Linked DNA regions of Homo sapiens: region 1 is linked to region 2. The links come from fine-mapping of genetic effects on plasma protein levels. A gene starts in region 2. The other region holds a variant in brackets. All regions are shown on one strand. Distances are from middle to middle. Region 1 has its middle 4.7 kb from the start of RPS14. Region 2 holds the start of NDST1 (N-deacetylase and N-sulfotransferase 1).

Evidence for each region. A credible set is the group of variants that fine-mapping cannot tell apart. PIP is the posterior inclusion probability: the model's chance that the variant is causal. Sun 2018 read protein levels with aptamers (SomaScan).
Region 1: its variant is the best candidate, but not a certain one, in a credible set for the plasma level of the NDST1 protein (Sun 2018, PIP 0.55).

The regions. Positions count from the first base shown.
Region 1 is chr5:150,449,940-150,458,868 of GRCh38, forward strand. No RefSeq gene overlaps it. Among named protein-coding and RNA genes, the nearest start is that of RPS14, 4.7 kb to the left of the region's middle. RefSeq lists enhancers at 1-255, 1-188 and a silencer at 4,203-4,403. The variant C/T (reference allele first, on the strand shown) is at 432.
Region 2 is chr5:150,504,125-150,513,180 of GRCh38, forward strand. NDST1 (N-deacetylase and N-sulfotransferase 1) reads left to right here and starts at 4,007. Exons shown (of 15, transcript NM_001543.5): 1 at 4,007-4,102. RefSeq lists enhancers at 5,991-6,564, 7,866-8,519 and a silencer at 7,483-7,777.

The sequences.
Region 1 (8,929 bases), 54 kb before region 2:
CCTAAGCGACAGTACGAAGCGGCTACACCCGCGGGGTGAGGTGGGCCTGTATTCCATGATGGCGGTGGTCGTGGCTAGACAGACTTCCGCCATCCTGACTCCCGCCCTGGCAGCCTTGGAGCGGCAGCGCCCCTTGTGTGGAGCAGGGGAATAACAACAACAAAACGGCCTTAATTAAAGCTAGGGTGGCGCCGGCCTGTGGTCCCAGTTACTCAGGAGGCTGAGGATCGCTTCGTCCAAGTAGTTCGAGGCCAGCCTAGGCAACATAGTCGGGGAAAACACACCGTAATCACTTACTTTGGCATATTATATAATGGGCAAAATAAGAATAAATTATTCAATATGTATTTTCAGACCGGTCTGGGCTAAACAGTTTATATGCATTGCTTCATTTACTCCTCAAGACATTATCAAATAATTTTGATTTCCCT[C/T]TTACAGATAAAGGATGTTAACTGAGAGCACACCTTTGCAGAAGGGTTTGGAATTCTAGCTTCAAAGCCCTCGTGTTTAATAGCTACTTCCACATAGCCCTCTAATAACAATATACATGTATATATTTCGACCGAATCTTGTTCTGTAGCCAAGGCTGGAGTGCAGTGGCGCAATCTCGGCTGACCGCAACCTCTGCCTCCCAGGTTCAAGCTATTCTGCCTCAGCCTCCCAAGTAGCTGGGACTACAGGCGCGTGCCACCACGCCCGACAAATTTTTTGTGTGTGTGTATTAGTAGAGACGGGGTTTTACCGTGTTGACTAGGGTGGTCTGGATTTTCTGACCTCGTGATCCACCTGCCTCGGCCTCCCAAAGTGCTGGGATTACAGGCGTGAGCCACCGTGCCCAGCCTCTAATAACAATATTGAAGGACCTTGAAGGCTTGGGAGAATATGTCGGAGCTGTGGGGAAGGGCCAAGAAGTGTACCTCACAGAGCTAGGCAAGCGGTAGATACATTTTATCTATGTACTATATGTAATATTTATATGGAATATATATAGTATTTTTGTATTACATACTATATAAATATTATAAATATATTTTAAATATATAAATATATCCCGTGGCTCCAGCCTGGGTGACACAGCGAGACCCTGTCTCAAAAAAAAAAAAAATTTATTCTGCTAAACTGAAAAACTCAACATACCTTCTTTTTTTTTTTGAGACGGAGTCTGGCTCTTGTTGCCCAGGCTGGAGTGCAGTGACGCCATCTTGGCTCACTGCAAGCTCCGCCTCCTGGGTTCAAGTGATTCTCCTGCCTCATCTCCCGAGTAGCTGGGATTACAGGTGTGCGCCACCACACCCGGCTAATTTTTGTATTTTTAGTAGAGACGGGGTTTCACCATGTTGTCCAGGCTGGTCTCGAACTCCTGCCTCAGGTGATCCACCCGCCTCGGTCTCCCAAAGGGCTGGCATTATAGGCGTGAGCCAATGCACCCAGCCTCAACATACCTTCTCGTTGCATTGCATTTCTTCGATGATGAGTGACGTCAGACATCTCTTTACGGATTGTTTTAACCATTTGCATCTCTTCTGTGAAATGTCTGTATTTTTTGAAGGAGAGGGCTTTTTTGTTTTAATGAGCTTCCCAGTATGTTAGCAGAGACTGGAGTATTGTGGAGTGAGTTCCGCTTTGATTAAGAGTTGTATTAAACAGACCTCCAAACCTCATGTGGCTTCATGGAGGGAGCAAGCCTTGATCTTATGGCTGAAGGCAGCCCACACAATCACCTCAGGACAAATTTTTCCACAGGGAAGCCTATCTTTATCCCAGAAACCATCAAAGTCACTGCTTTCAAACTCCACTTTATTTAATCAACATATTTATTGTTTCTGCAGTTATTAGCTATGGTTCTTTGGGCAAAAATTGTAACCTCTCTGGGCTTCAGTTTTCTCATCTGTGAAATGGGATGATAATAGCATATTTTTATTTTTATTCATTTTTTTTTTTTTTTTTGAGACAGAGTCTCACTGTTGCCTTCCCCTGCCTCAGCCTCCCTAGTAGCTGGGACTACAGGCACACACCACCACACCCGGGTAGTTTTTTTTTTTTTTTTTTGTATTTTTAGTAGAGACGGGGTTTCACCATGTTGGCCCAGGCTGATTTCGAACTCCTGACCTCAGGTGATCCAGCCCCCGCGGTCTTCCAAAGTGCTGAGATTACAGATGTGAGCCACCGCGCCTGGCCGATAATAGTACATTTTTAAATGTATGTTGAAAACTTCAGGGCTCAGTGGCTCACGCCTATAATTCCAACACTGTGGGAGACTGAGGCAGGAGGATCACTTGAGCTCAGGAGTTGGAGACCAGTCTGGGCAACATGGTGAAACACCTTCTCTACAACAAATAGAAAAATTAACCAGGTATGGTGACCTGCACCTATAATCCCAGCTACTTGGGAGGATCACCTGATCCTGGGAGGTGAAGGCTGCAGTGAGCTGTGATCACACCACTGCACTCCAGCCTGGGCGATAGTGAGACCCAATATATATATTTTTAAAATGTGTAATGAAAACCTGTATCTTTTGTGTTTTGAGACAGAGTCTCACTCTGTCGCCCAGGCTGGAGTGCAGTCGCACGATCTCAGCTCACCACAACCTCCTCCTCCCGGGTTCGAGCAATTCTCCTGCCTCAGCCTCCCAAGTAGTTGGGATTACAGGCGCCCTTCACCACACCTGGCTAATTTTTTGTATTTTTAGTAGAGACGGGGTTTCACCATGTTGTCCAGGCTGATCTTGAACTCCTGACCTCAGGTGATCCACCAGCCTCGGCCTCCCAAAGTGCTAGGATTACAGGCATGAGCCACCGCACCCAGCCAAAAACCTGTACCTTTATTGGACGCTTACTCTTTGTCAGGCACTGAGATACAATCATGGCATTTGAACTGAGACTTGAAAGTAGAGTAGGAATTAGCTACGTGAAGGTGTGAAGAATGGTCTGGGCAGGGAGAATAGAATATGCAAAGGCCCTGAAGTGGGTAGGTGTTTGGAGAACTCAAGGAATTAAAAAATGGCCAGTAGTACTGGGGTGTTGTGAATAAGGGAAGAGGAATGGGGGCTGAGGCTGGAGGGGCAGCACAGCCACTTTCCGTGGGGCCTCACCTCACTGTTGCCATGTCTGCGTTCCCCACCCCACCGCACCCCTGCGCTGTCAACACTGCCAGCACAGGGGTGTACTTACCCTCCCCTCTCAGAGCTCACACACTCACTCAGGGAGCACTCACTGAGCACCTAGGATGTGTCTGACATTGTAAATACTTGGGATACATCAGTGACAAAAACAATGGTCCCTACCCTCTCAAAGTCTACATTCTGGAAGGAAGAGCAGACATAATGTCTATGTAAGCTTCCTATTTTGTTAGAAAGTGGTCAGTCCTGTGGAAAGAAGAAAAAGTTGGCCAGGTGTGGTGGCTCACACCTGTAATCCCAGCACCTTGCATGGCTCAGGTGGGCAGATCACCTGAGGTCAGGAGTTTGAGACCAACCTGGCCAACATGGTGAAACCCCGTCGCTACTAAACATACAAAAATTAGCTGGGGGTGGTGGCAGGTGCCTGTAATCCCAGCTACTTGGGAGGCTGAAGCACGAGAATAGCTTGAACCTGGGAGGCAGAGGTTGCAGTGAGCTGAGACCGCGCTGTTGCACTCCAGCCTGGGCGACAAGAGTGAAACTCCATCTCAAAGAAAAAAAAAGAAGAAGAAGAAGAAAGAAAAAGTCAGGCTGGGCGAAGGGTACTGAAGGTCTGAGGAAAGGGGTGGGGTGGGTGGCTGAATTAAACAGAGAGGGCCAGGCAGCCTTGCTGAGGAGTGATTTGAGCAGAGCTGTGAGGTGGTGAAGGGGTGGCCTGCCCCTCCACACCTGTGGGTGTTTCTCGTCAGGTGGGATGAGAGACTGAGAAAAGAAAGAGACACAGAGACAAAGTATAGAGAAAGAGTGCCAGGGGACTGGCGCTCAGCATATGGAGGGCCCACGATGACACCGGTCTCTGAGTTCCTTCAGTATTTATTGATCATTATCTCTACCATCTTGGAGAGAGGGATGTGGCAGGACAATAGGGTAATAGTGGGGAGAGGGTCAGCAGGAAAACGTGTGAACAAATGTCTCTGTGTCATAAACAAGGTTAAGAAAAAGGTGCTGTGCTTTGATGTGCACATACATAAACATCTCGGTGCATTAAAGAGCAGTATTGCCGCCAGCATGTCTCACCTCCAGCCCTAAGGCGGTTTTCTCCTATCTCAGTAGATGAAATATACAATTGCGTTTTACAACGAGACATTCCATTGCCCAGGGACGAGCAGGAAACAGATGCCTTCCTCTTACCTCAACTGCAAAGAGGCCTTCCTCTTTTACTAATCCTCCTCAGCACAGACCCTTTACGGGTATCAGGCTGGGGGACGGTCAGGTCTTTCCCTTCCCACAAGGCCATATTTCAGACTATCACATGGGGAGAACTTGGACAATATCTGGCTTTCCTAGGCAGAGGTCCCTGCAGCCTTCCGCAGTGTTTTGTGTCCCTGGGTACTTGAGATTAGGGATTGATGATGACTTTCAAGAAGCATGCTGCCTTCAAGCATTTGTTTAACAAAGCACATCCTGCATAGCCCTAAATCCATTAAACCTTGAGTCGACACAGCACATGTTTCTGCGAGCACAGGGTTGGGGGTAGGGTTACAGATTAATAGCATCTCAAGGCAGAAAAATTTTTCTTAGTACAGAACAAAATGGAGTCTCTTATGTCTACTTCTTTCTACACAGACACAGTAATGGTCTGATCTCTCTTTTCCCCACAAGGTGGGAGAGGGAGCCAGCCTTGCAGGTATCTAAGGGAAGATGGTTATGGGCAGAGGGAGCAGTATGTGCAAAGCCTAGAGGCGGGAGTATGACTGGCATGTTCTAGCAACAGCAAGGAGGCCAGGGTGGCTGGTATGGGGTGAGCCAGGGCAGGCAGGTGAGGAGATGTGACGAGAGGTCACTGGGGGTGGAGAGAGATTGTGTAGACCATGTAGGCCTTAGAGTTCATTGGCTTTTACTGAGTGGAGCCACTGGAAGGTTTTAAGCAGAGGGTGACAGAACTGACTTCTGTTTTAATAGGTGCACTCTGGGTGCTCTGTGGGGTGGGGTGAGGGGCAAAAGTAGAAGCAGGGATGACGGTTAGGAGGCTTTTGCAATAAAGCAAGTGAAAGACATTGGTAGCTAAGACGGAGGAGGCATCAGTAGAGGTAGAAAGAAGTCGCTAATATTTGGTTTTATTTTGAAAATGGGGTCCGATAGCTTCTCGGCCTTTTGGCTAAGATCAAGTGAAAATGGTGGCCGAGTGCAGTGGCTCACGCCTATAATCCCAGCACTTTGGGAGGCCAAGGTGGGTGGATCAATTGAGGTCAGGAGTTCGAGATCAGCCTAGCTAACATGGCAAAACCCCATCTCTACAAAAAATACAAAAATTATCTGGGCATGGTAGCGCGCACCCATACTCCCAGCTACTCGGGAGGCTGAGGCATGAGAATCGCTGGAACCCAGGAGGCAGAGATTGAAATCGTACCACTGCACTCCAGCCTGGGTGACAGAGTGAGACTCTGTCTCAAAAAAAAAAAAAAAAAAAAAGAAAAAGAAAAGAAAATGAGAAAATGGATCCAACAGGATTTACTGATAGATTAAACTAGACATGGGGCATGGGAAAAGAGTGTTGTCAAAGATGATTCTAGCATTTATGGCTGGAGGAACCAGAAGGATGGAGTTGCCCTCAGCTGGGGTAGGGAAGGCAGAGGGTGGAGGAGGTTTTTAGGGGAAGATCAGATGCCCACTCGTAGGCCTGAGTTTGAGCTGTTTATTACATACCCGAGTGGAGCTGTCAGAATGACAGCTGAGATAGATGAATCTGGAATTGAGAAGTGGATCAGGGCTGGAGGTGTAAATTTGGGAGTCTCCAGCATACAGATGGTATTTAAAATCACAAGACTGATTTTAATCACGAGTCCCGCCAAGGGGCTGAGTGTAGATAAAGAAGAGGCTAAGGACTGAGCGTTGAGAGCATGGGGATAAGAGAAGGAGAGAGCCAAGAAAATAAGCCATGAACAGAAATGAAAGGAGACCAGGAGAGGGCACATCCAGAAGGCAACTGGAGAAATGCAATCAAGCAGAAGGGAGTGTGCACCTGTGCCATCGCGCTTAGAGGTCAAGGATAACAAGGGCTAAGGATGACCGTTGGATGTAGCAACATGAAATACTGGGGACTTTGACAACAGCAGCTTGATTGGGGGGCTGGGTGGGGGGAGTGCAAAAGTGTGAATGGAGTAAGAGAGGGAGGTCCACACCTCTTGGACAGCTCTTTCCAATATTTATTTATTTATTTATTTATTTATTTATTTATTTTAAGATAGAGTCCCTCTCTGTTACCAGGCTGGAGTGCAGTGGTGTGATCTCAGCTCACTGCAATCTCCACCTCCTGGGTTCAAGTAATTCCCGTGCCTCAGCCTCCTGAGTAGCTGGGATTACAGGCACACGCCACCACACCCAGCTAATTTTTGTATTTTTAGTAGAGAAGGGGTTTCACCATGTTGGCCAGGATGGTCTCAATTTCTTGACCTCATGATCTGCCCACCTTGGCCTCCCAAAGTGCTGGGATTACAGGTGTGAGCCAGCATGCCTGGCCCAATTATTATTATTTTTTTAATTTTTAAAATTTTGTTATTTTTGAGACAGAGTCTCACTCTGTTGCCCAGGCTTGAGTGCAACCTCTGCCTCCCAGGTTCAAGCGATTTTCATGCCTCAGCCTCCGTATAGCTGGGATTAGAGGTTTGCACCACACACCTGGCTAATTTTTGTATTTTTAGTAGAGATGAGGTTTCACCATGTTGGCCAGGCTGGTCTCGAATTCCTGACCTCAAGTGATTCGCCCGCCTCGGCCTCCCAAAGTGCTAGGATTACAGGCATGAGCCACCGTGCCTGGCCCTCATTTTTCTTTAAATACTGAGTCTCCCTAAGTTGCCCAGGTTGGTCTTGACCTCCTGGGCTCAAGTGGTCCTCCCACCTCGGCCTTCCAAAATGCTGGGATTACAGGTGTGAGCCACCATGCCCAGTTCCTTCATAGACAGCTCTTGAGTTTTTCTGCAGAGGTGTGCCAGGGGGCAGATGGAGAATGGGAATGTGAGATCAAGAGGTTCTTTTTTTTCCTTTTTTAAGGTTGCATCAATAACAGATATTTTAACACTGCTGGGAATAGTCTAGAAGTGAAGGAAAAACATGCTGGAGCCCTGACATTGAGCAGGCAATAGGTAAAGGCCTCTGCTGCGCATGTGGAGGCATCGGCTTTAGGCAGGAATGTGGACAGCTCACCTCAGGTGCTAATGAGGAAGGAAGACGGTGGGGGCAAATGTGGCAGCAGGAGCTGGAGAAAGTTCTCATTCCGGAAGTGGAAAGCAAGCAGCTTCCTCTCAACAACCACAGGAGGTAGAAAATGTTTAATCCCCCCCGTTATAACTGAGGACACAAGGAAAAGGTCAACAGCTCTAAGTGGGGCACCAGGATCTGGGCCCAAGCAGTCTGACTCCAGAGCCCAATTCGTGTAACCTCAGGTACAGGTGTTTTGTAAATATCTGTTGATTGGATGAAGGAAGAGCAAGGAATTAGCCTGCAGCAGCAGAAGCCAAGCCCTTTCCTGGGTCCTCAAGCTCAACCTGGAAGGCCCCGTGCTCCCCATTCTCGGCAGCAGCTCATACTGTCATTTGTCCAGGAGCTCTATCCCCTCCTCCCCTTGAAGGGTAGTTTGCAAATGCAACAGAGGAAGGGTGGGAAGAAGCTGTGGCTCAGAGAGGGTGAGTTTGCTCACCAGGACACACAGCCAGGAATCAGACACCAACTGTGGCCCAGGTGGTCCTGGGACTTGGAGGGAGGACCTTCTCAAAAGTGTTGGCTGCTGTGAAGCTGTCGTGGAGTCATGGGTCTATTGCTGGTCTGAGCCCCAGAACACACATGAGCGCTAGTCTGCGTGTGTAAGTGTGGCACACAAGGGAGAGCGGCGGTGTGTGTGTTGGGGATTAGGCCAGGTGCACACCCTCCAGGGTCCAGGGGAGGAGGGGCTACAAAAGGCCTGGAGATGGCTCCCTCTGTAGCAATGCCCCTCTAGAGACCGGCAGGCTTCGTCCTCCAGGGCTGTAATTCACCTGCTCCCCGTGCTCACAGGACTCACACGCGGTCTGCGAGCAACTGATGGGAGCCCCTGTGTGCCCCAGGACCTGTCATCTCAGCACTCGCCACACAGTGACCGTGTCACGGCCTGCTGCCAAGGGGCTTTGTCTAGCAGGGAATATGGGCAAGAAACAAGGACAAAGTAAGGAACGGGGGATACGGAGGGCTCTGGCTTGCTCAGGGGCCTTGCTGGAGGGCCCAAAATGGGAGTAGGAGACAGCCAGGACAGGAAGAAGAGGGTGGGAGAAAACTCCCAGCTCAGGCCGGGCGCGGTGGCTCACGCCTGTAATCCCAGCACTTTGGGAGGCCAAGGCGGGTGGATCACGAGGTCAGGAGATCGAGACCATCCTGGCTAACATGGTGAAACCCCGTCTCTACTAAAAAAATAAAAAAATTAGCCAGGCGTGGTGGCGGACGCCTGTAGTCCCAGCTACTCAGGAGGCTGAGGCAGGAGAACGGCGTCAACCCGGGAGGCGGAGCTTGCAGTGAGCCGAGATCGTGCCACTGCACTCCAGCCTGGGCGACAGAGCAAGACTCTGTCTCAAAAAAAAAAAAAAAAAAAAAAAAAAGAAAAGAAAAAGAAAACTCCCAGCTCACGAAACAGCACGTGGAAAGGTCTTGAATCAAAGGGGACCTGGGATCATTCAGGGATTCGGGAGAAGTCTCTGTGCTGAGGGGAGGGGGTGGGTGGGAGGTAAGATCAAAGGTTGGGGCCTGGGCCTTGGGGGCGGTGGGTGAGAGGTCTCCCTCGCTCTG
Region 2 (9,056 bases):
CCAGCCAAGCCCTCTGCTTCTGCAAGCCTGTTTCCCAGCAGTTGAGCTGTGCCAGGACAGCCAAGGACATTTCAGAGTCCCCAGGGCTCATAGCCAGGCTGTCACCGGGCATTGCTTATTTTCCCAGGGCCCAGGAGTCTTCAGGGATGGTGGGGGTTCTGGAGATGTTCCAAGGACTTTTCTTAACAGCTTGGTAAATTGAGGTCTGGAGAGAGCAAGGCACTTGACCAAGGTCTCACAAGGCCGCCTCCCTCATATCTGCCACTCCCCTCTGTTTCCGTGTCCTCTGCACAGACTCCTGGCCTTCTGCCTGGACGTTTGTAACAACCTCCCTCTTGTGGGCTCCCTAAGAGCTTTGTTTGTCCTCCATTATCGTAATCTTGCCATAATCTGCCAGATGCACACACTATTTGATGTGTCTACCTCCTGTCCCCTCCACTGACTGCCCGTGACAGAGTCTCCCCGACAGAGCTGTGCAGCATGAGGTTTAGGCCCCAGGCTCTGGAGCCAGTCTGAACTCTGTTTGGATGCCAGCTCTGCCCCTTCCTGGCCTGGTGACCTTGGGCATGATACCCTACTTTTCTGAGCTGCTGTCTTTGTGAAATGAAAACAGTAGCAATACTTAGTTGATAGGAATGTCAGGACAGTTAAATGGGATAACGTGTGAAATGCAGAGTACAACACCTGGTACCAAGTAAACTCTCAGAAATGGTCATCATTGTCCCAAAGGCCCATCAGTTGGTTGAACTGGAAAGTCGTGAGCATGGAGGAGTAGACCCAAGCTTGGACTGGGAGGCAGAGGATGTGGGCTCCAAGTTCATCTCAAACATTGTGTTCCTGTGTGCGTGTTGGGAAGCCACTTATCCTCTGGAAACCCCACTTTCCTTTTCTGAGAAAGGGGGAAGAAATCCCTGCTATACTTTAATAAAGTTGGCATGTGATACCGCAGCAATGCCTGTGAAAATGCTTTGCATCTGTGTAATGATTTAAAAATGGCACAGCGGTGGCTGTGGTGTGCTGATGGCGATGAGGGCATTGTAACCACAGTGGTGGGCAGCTGGCCGGGCTGGAGGCTGGTTCATCTGTGGAATGCTTAGTGCCCACACGGACTTCCCCATCCCTGCCTACCTGCTCCCGGCTGTCCACCAGCCTGCCTTCACATTAGCCCCGGCATTATATGCTAGAAAATGTGGGAGGTGCAAAGAGCTGATGGCATTTCCCCAGCCCTGGTGGGTTTTCTGTTATCTGTGGCTGATGCCATGGAATGTGGGGATTAAGAACCAGACAGATGCTGGTTCGAATCTCAGCTAAGCACTTCCCAACAGGGACCTTAAGCAAGTTGCTTAATCTCTGTGGACCTCAGGCTCCATATTTGTAAAATGAGGCCATGATCAAGTAGAGGCCAAGCATTTAACAAAGAGCCCAGAACATAATGGCATCAGGTGGTTGTATAATGTGTATTCTGCCTGGAACGTGGTCACTGACAACGTGGTGACTGACAGGTTATCGATGGCAGGAAGCTGGGGCCACTGTGCCCATTTCGGGGATTTGCTGCAGAGGTCGGTTATGCTCCCTACAGAATAACCCAGCTTAGATTTAGGAGGGTCTATGGAATCATATGGCATGATTCAATTTTTTAAATTAACTCGTTTTTTAAAATTTTATTTTTTTTAGAGATGGGGTCTTGCTGTATCTCCCAGGCTGCAGTGCCATAGTGCAGTTGTAGCTCACTGCGGCCTTGAATGCCCGGGCTTCCAGCAATCCTCCTACCTCAGCCTCCTGAATAGCTGGGACTACAGGCTCGTGTCACCATGCCTGGCTTCATGATTCTGTTTTATGTGACCAAACTGAGGCCGAGAAAGGAGTGGTACTTGCCTGAGGTCACAGGCAGGTTGTGTAAGAAGGCCGGGCCTAGGATGAGGCAAGTGAGGCATCTAAGTGCAGCGTCTCAGGAGGTGCCCGCTGTGTGCTTGCACATTGTGGAGAATAAGAACCTTTGTTTTTGAGAGAGGGTCTAGCTGTGTCGCACAGGTTGGAGTGCAGTGGTGCAATCTGGGCTTACTGTAGCCTCAACCTCCTGGGCTCAGGTGATCCTCGCACCTCAGCCCTCCCATATAACTGACTATAGGCACACGCCACTACGCTGTCTAATTTTTGTAATTTTTTTTTGTAGAGAAGGGGTTTTGCCATGTTGCCCAGGCTGGTGTTGAACTCCTGGTCTCAAACTCCTGGGTCAACCTGCCTTGAGCTCCCAAAGTGTTGGGATGACAGGCGTGAGCCACTGCACCTGGCAGTGAGCACCTTCTAAAAGGCTCCTCGCGGGCCTCACCTGAGCCTAGTCCTGGGTGAGTTCCTGATCTAGGACTGGAACCCTGGTCTCCTGGCCCCATGAACTGTTCTGGACCCCTGCGAGGTACTTTTTAGAGTCTCGCTGAGGCCTCCTATTCCTCTTTAAAAGGAGCCTCTGTGAAGTAGGTCACCCAGTGCTTTTTGCTCCACGTTTCTGTTCTCTAGCTGTTGTCTGTGTCCTAGAGAAAGCCGGGCCCACTTGCCCCCACCTCTCCCCACCTTCTGCCCCCTCCCCCTGCCAGCTGCGCCTCCATGTAAGTACTTTGAGTCCCTTAACACCCCAAGGCGTGTTGGTGGCCAGCTTTTGTCGTGATGACAAGCCCCAGCAAGTCTACAGGGACTGGCTGCTTTCATGTGGGCCCTCGGTGAAGCCTCCTTGGTCTCAGCAGGCCCTGTGTTGTACCCACCAGGCCTCTAGGAGATTAGGGGGCTTCTGTGGCTCCAGATGGCTCAAAGCTTTTCCCTTCCTCTGTGTTATCCCTAGCCCACCTGGCTTCCGTCCTCACTGGCCACGGGGCTTGGGGGATTTTCAGTCTCTCCAAGGCTCTGGCATCTTCCAGAGTGGGCTAGTCTTGGAGTGTCCATCTGAGCCATTCTTTCTGTCACCACTGCTGGGCCTGCCTGCTGGGCCTTAGGTGACTTCTTGAGAGGTGGCCAAAGCTGCTAATCCCTGGAAGGGGCTCCTAGGATTTCCCTGTGGCTGGCAGGACCCTTGGCCACCCACGTGGTGTGACATGAGGAGCCTGGAAAGCCAGCCCAACCTCCATCCTTAAGCCCCACGTATAAACATACCTTTTTTTTTTTTTTAACTGCAGCTCTCAGAGCCTGCAGTTCTACTGTTGTCAGGTTGCCTTGTGCTCTCCTTGGCATCCTCTAAGAAGGCAAATACCTTTTCAGCTGGGTGCTTTTAAGCATTTGCTGTCAAGAAGCAAGCCCTGGCCAGCCTGGCCCTTTTCCAGTGTTCTGTGTGACCGTGGCCAAGTTGCTTCTCTTCTCTGGGTCTCGTCTTTGTAAGACCCTTTTCAGCTCTAGCACTTTGAGGCTCCAGCATGGATTCTTACACCCTCCACACCTTTGCCGGTCACCTTTCTTCCTTCTCTGCAGGGTGGGGCACAGGGAAGGGCCTGGCAGCTGAGCTGGGTGGGGCCAGGGGCCAAAAGCCAGCATCATAGACACTTTTCCCTCCAGCTGGGCATACCAGTCCTTCCTCTTCTTCTCAGGACAGGTGGGGAAACTGAGGTCTGGAGGGGGAAGGGCCAGGGCTGGAACCAGGACCCAGTTATCCTTATTGCCAGTGAGTGCTCCTCCTGCTGTTGGCTGCTACCTCTCTTGAGAGGGTCAGAAGACCCACTAGCATGAGGGTCAGGGACATGCTTTTTCCTTTCCCGTGGAAGGCTCCTCCAGGCAGGGCTTGGGTGAGGCAGGCGAGGTGCCAGTGGTTCCCTGGGCACGGGGCAGAATCGGAGGAGGACATCCTCTTTCTGAGGTTAAGGAGGTAGGGGCTGGAGGCCTTGACAAGGGAGGTGGCATGAAGGGGCGTGGAGGTTTCTAGGAACGTGGTTGGTGGCGCAGGGTGCTCTAGGGCCACCTCCCTCCCTTGCTTCTGCCTTCCCTTTCTCCTGGGGAGGGGACTGGGCCAACAGTAATGCCATTTTTCCTGGCCCTGGGATTAGGTGCAGCCGTGTTAAGGAGAGGACATTCGAGAGGGCGTGGCGAAGTGAAGAGGAACCTCACGCCACTGCCTGGAGCTCCGGTGGGTCTGGGTCTGGTCATTGTCTCGCTGGCTCCTGTCCACTCTGACCACTGTCCCTGGCCCCCTGCCCTGTCCAGTCCTTCCAGGTCCATCTGAGTGTGTGTGTGTGTGTGTGTGTGTGTGTGTCCCCAGGAGGGATCTGGGGGTACAGGCTGGCACTTGAGCCTGGCACTGGGTCCTGCCTTCATTCCAGATCAGAAGCAGCTCCCGGAACTGCCCCAGGGAGAGGTCTAGGCTGACCTGGCAGATTCCTGATGGAGGAGAAGGAGGAGGAGGCTGAGGGATGGGAAGGAAGGGCTCAGTTTCTCCTGTGGCTTCTCCAGACAGCTAGGCATGTCCACAAATCCACCTGAAGCCAGCAGGTCCAAGAGTTTAAAGATTTATTTCAGGGCCACGGGGGAAGCTGAAATGGTGAGATCCCAGGGCTCTCAGATGTTGTGTTTGTGGCTTTGGTCCTGTCTAGACTGTGAGAGCCATGGCTTGTCAAAGCCAGAGGGGCCCCTAGAGAATTTCCATGTTCTTAACTTGGCTTTTGATGGGGGCCAGTCACAACCACTCTGAATTTGTGTGTCTGGGGAGAGAATCTGCTAATAGCCATCATTAGATTCTCAAAGGGTTCTATAACCCCCAGAAGGTCACAGACTTCTCCTCTAGTCCATACCCCTCACTGCAGTTGCAGAAACTGAGGCTCAGAGAAGGGAAGGGACTTGCCCAGAGACTCACAGGCGGCAATGGAGGCTGTGGCACCCCCTGCCTCTGTCTTCCTGCCAGCATTCTGCCTGACCTTACAAGCTGGGGAAGCTTGGCTCATTCAGGGGACAATGACCTCTCATCCCCTGATGAGAGGAAGGGGATGACTGGGAGGGAAGGACTGGGAGGCTGTTGTGGTTTCCAGGCCCGCATGGATTTTGGCTTCTGCATCCTTGAGATGGAGGCCCCTGAGTCTGCCTGTGCCTTGGAATCTCTCAGGGTGTATCTGAGGCCTGGAGTCGGGCATGCGGGAGGGTGGGGGCTAGTGGTGACCCACATTTCCCAGCTCCTCTGCAGGGGAGGCAGATAGGGGAGAAGCTCAGGGTGTGATAAAATTGTTTTTACTTCACTGGGCATAAATGACAAATAAATGAAGTGAGGGTTGGGAAGTGCTTGGTAGAGCGCCTGGCACATGCCAGGCCGTGAGGCGAGGTGCTCACCATTGTCCTTTGCGGTGCCCTGCTAGCTGAGATCTCCTGCTTCTGACCCTCGCTCCTGCCTCTTCCTTAGCATGAGGCCTCTGCCTGGGGCAGGAGGTGGCCCCCCTTTCTTTATTTTTTTTGAGATGGAGTTTCGCTCAGGCTAGAGTGCAATGGCGCCATCTCGGCTCACTGTAATCTCCGCCTCCCAGGTTCAAGCGATTCTCCTGCCTCAGCCTCTGGAGTTGCTGGGATTACAGGCATGTGCCACACACCTGGCTAATTTTGTATTGTTAGTAGAGATGGGGTTTCACCGTGTTAGCCAGGATGGTCTCGATCTCAGGACCTTGTGATCTACCCGCCTCAGCCTCCCAAAGTGCTGGGATTACAGGCAGGGGCCACTGCCCCGAGCCGCCATCCCCCTTTCTTATATTGGGGTGTCTGATGGGGGCGTGAGGACCCTCTGGCTGAAGTCCTGCCTTGCTGGGTTCCATGGTGCACCTCTCTGCAGTGCAGGCTTTCCCAGGAGGCTGAAGCTCAGCTAGAGAAGCTGGGTCAGCAGCCCTGGGCCTGGTCACCTCCAGGAAGCCTCTCTCCTGGGCTGCAGACCTGGCTTGGGAGTGGTGTGGAAAGTAGGACTGCAGAAGGGTAACGAACAGGGGCTGTGGGGTGGGCTGGGAGGGGCATCCTAGCTCCACCTCTGCCCAGCTGTGTGACTTCGAGCGGTTGCTTACCCTCTCTGAGCCTCCATTTCCTTGTCTGTAAAGTGCTCATAGCAGTGACACCTCTTTCAGGGTGTTAGGATTGAGCGTGATGGAGCAGGTAAGGCTCCTGGCACAGCCCCACATGTTCGCAGGAGCTTAACGTTGGCCGCCAGTAAGGGAGGTTATGATATGTGTTGGGATATGCTGCTTTGTTCCTTTTGAGTGTCTGTGATCTGAGCCTAAGGAAAAAATAGTTCTGGATGGATTTGACTCTGTCATAGGCAGATTTGGGGATAGGGTGGGCAGAGAGCCCCATTTTGGGAAGATTTGTGGCCACTGCATAACATTCTGTGTGATGGACCTGACAGCCTTGGTGTGCGTGAAGAGCCTCAGTGGGACTGTCAGGACTGTCCCGTCCTTGGGACGGGAGGGTGGCAGGTGACCTGCCGTGTTCCCCACACAGCCCCACCCCCAGGCTGTCTGGTATGTTTGCTCGGTAAGCCCTTTTTTTCAGAGCTGGTACAAAGGTAAACTCGCAACTCAGGCCCTGTTGGAAGAAGGACACATTCTCAACAAGTGAGGTCTAAGTTCCTGAGGTTTTCTGTTGGGCCTTCCCTGCCAGGGAACCCAGAACAGATTCACAAGTTGAGAACCAGGGAGTGAACCAGTAGTGCTTAATGCTTTGTTTCCTTGTTGATTGACGGATGATCTGTGAGCTACTTCCAAGAAAGATCACTAGAGGCTGCTTGTGATACTAAAACACATATAAAATGGATGAAAACAAACACAGACAGAAAACTATTGAAAAGGAATGGAGAAAGGGATGTGCAGGGCATCTGGCAAATGTTAGCTGTCTTAGGTGATCACAGAGGGGCTGCGGAGATGGGGGATGAGGGGCCCAGGCTCTGGAGCCCAGCAGCTGTGTGCTGAAGTTCCCATTCACCCCCTTATTAGCTCTGTGGGCTGCAGCAAGTGACTGGCCTCTTTGGACCTCAGTTTCTCATCCGTATAATGGGGGGAATCTAGGTCATGGTGCTGTGGTAAGGTTGAAATAATGGCATGTAACGCAGACATGGCATGTCTCATAAATGGAAGTTAATGTTATTAATGCATTTAGCTTGGAGATGCCGCGTAGCAGATTCACAGAGGGGAAGGTAATTGGCAAGGGCACAAGGCTCTTGAGTACCTGCTGTGGGTAGGAGATGGCTTGTGCCTTGGAAAGCTTTCAGTGAAGTTGGGAGCCCCATGTTCTAGTTGCAAGAACAACTGATACCTGGTGTTGCGTGGTGGGATGTGGAGCAGGGGAGCTCAATCAGGACTTTAGAAATCCAGAGCAGGCTTGTTCACCTCCCTGCTGAGGCTGGCATTGGAGGAGGAGGGACAGGGTTTTAATGGACAAGAAAATGGACCAAGGTAAATGAGAGTGGGGCACACCAGACGGCACAAGCCAGGAGGTCCTTTCCTCTCTCTGGGTCTCAGTGTCCCCAGGGGCTTACTGCAGGGTAGACTGTGCTCTCTGTGGCCCTGCGACTCTGAGCCAGACCTCCAACAGTCTCTTTCCCGGTGGTGGTGGTCCTGGACTCTGGGGTGACTGACAGGCGGCAGCTTGGCTCCTGGCCAGGCAGCACTGTGGGGGTGATGGGGGATGGGGCATGTAGCAGATTCCAGCAGAGGAAGGGATTTGCTTCTGGTCTCGGCCTCCCAGGGATGTAATCACGCTGGAGAAACTCCCGCACAGCTGGGAAGCAAATGTGGAGGATTTTCCTTGCTGAGCTGGATGTGGTGGGTGGGGCAGGCTGTGGTAGGGTGGCTGGTGGAGCTGGGAAGCTGTGGGGTGTGGCTGGGTGGGGGTGATGATGTGACTGTGCTGGGGGTGTGACTGGCTGGGAGGGGCTGGATCAGCTATGGGGAGTGGCCCTGGGTGCATGTGGGGCTACCTGTTCCCCAGGCCTGCAGCCACTGCTACGCCCTCCCCTGCTCAGGTCCCTGCCCAAGTCCAGGTACCCACCCATTCACATCCTTCTGAGGTTGCTGGCAGAGCTCTTTCTGCACTGACCTCCTCTCAGCCCCCACCCCATGTGCATGTGGCCCAGATGCCTATGATGATGCCATTTGAGCCTGTCATGTGCATGTGAATGTGGTGTGTGTGTTGGGGGGGCAGGGAGCAGTGTGTGGTCCACAGAGGGCATTGTCAAGAGTGACCTAGGCTGGAAATAAAATGTGGGCTGGGTGAGCATTCAAGGCCCTGGGCACCTTCCCCCATTCACTGCAGCCATGTCGTACCAGAGACATAAAACCTTGGGTTCCAGAGACCTCTAGAAACCCTTGTGGAAAGGTCATGGTCGCCACTGCATTTTCAGTGCCTAGTGGCATGCTTGGCACCTAGTGGTGCTCAGTAAATACAGGATGAGGAAACAGGTCGTTTGCTTGTTCCGCACTCCCAGAAAGATCTCGAACCTCCTTCCTGGATCCCATTCTCTTGCTCCTTCCCTCTGGCGTCAGCCTGGCCTCCCTTCCTCTCTCTTTCTCAATTCACTACTAATTTGATATGTGGCCTTGGGCCAGTTCCTTCCTGAGCCTCACTTTCCAAATCTGTTACTGAGTAATCATTTTATTAGCTTATATTACCATGTGCCAGGCACTGAGCTCAGTGTTTTACATGCCTCATCTCTCTTTGTCTTGGTAGCTGCCCTGCAAGATAGATAAGTAGTATAAACCCCATTTTAGATTTAGTGAAACTGAGGTTCAGAGAGGTTGAGAGATTTGCTCAAAGGTCATGAGGCTGGTAAATAATGGAGCCAACATTCAAGCCCCAGCTGGGAGCCACTGCACCCGGGAATTACCTGTAATCCCAGCACTTTGGGAAGCCAAGGCAGGAGGATTGCTTGAGACCAGGAGTTCAAGACCAGCCTAGGCAACATAGGGATACCTTGTCTGTATTAAAAAATTAGCTGGGCATGGTGGCACACACCTGTGGTCCTAGCTGCTTGGGAGACTGAGGTAGGAGGATCACTTGAGCGTGGGAAGTTGAGGCTGCAGTAAGTGTGATTGTGCCCCTGCACTCCAGCCTGGGCAACAGAG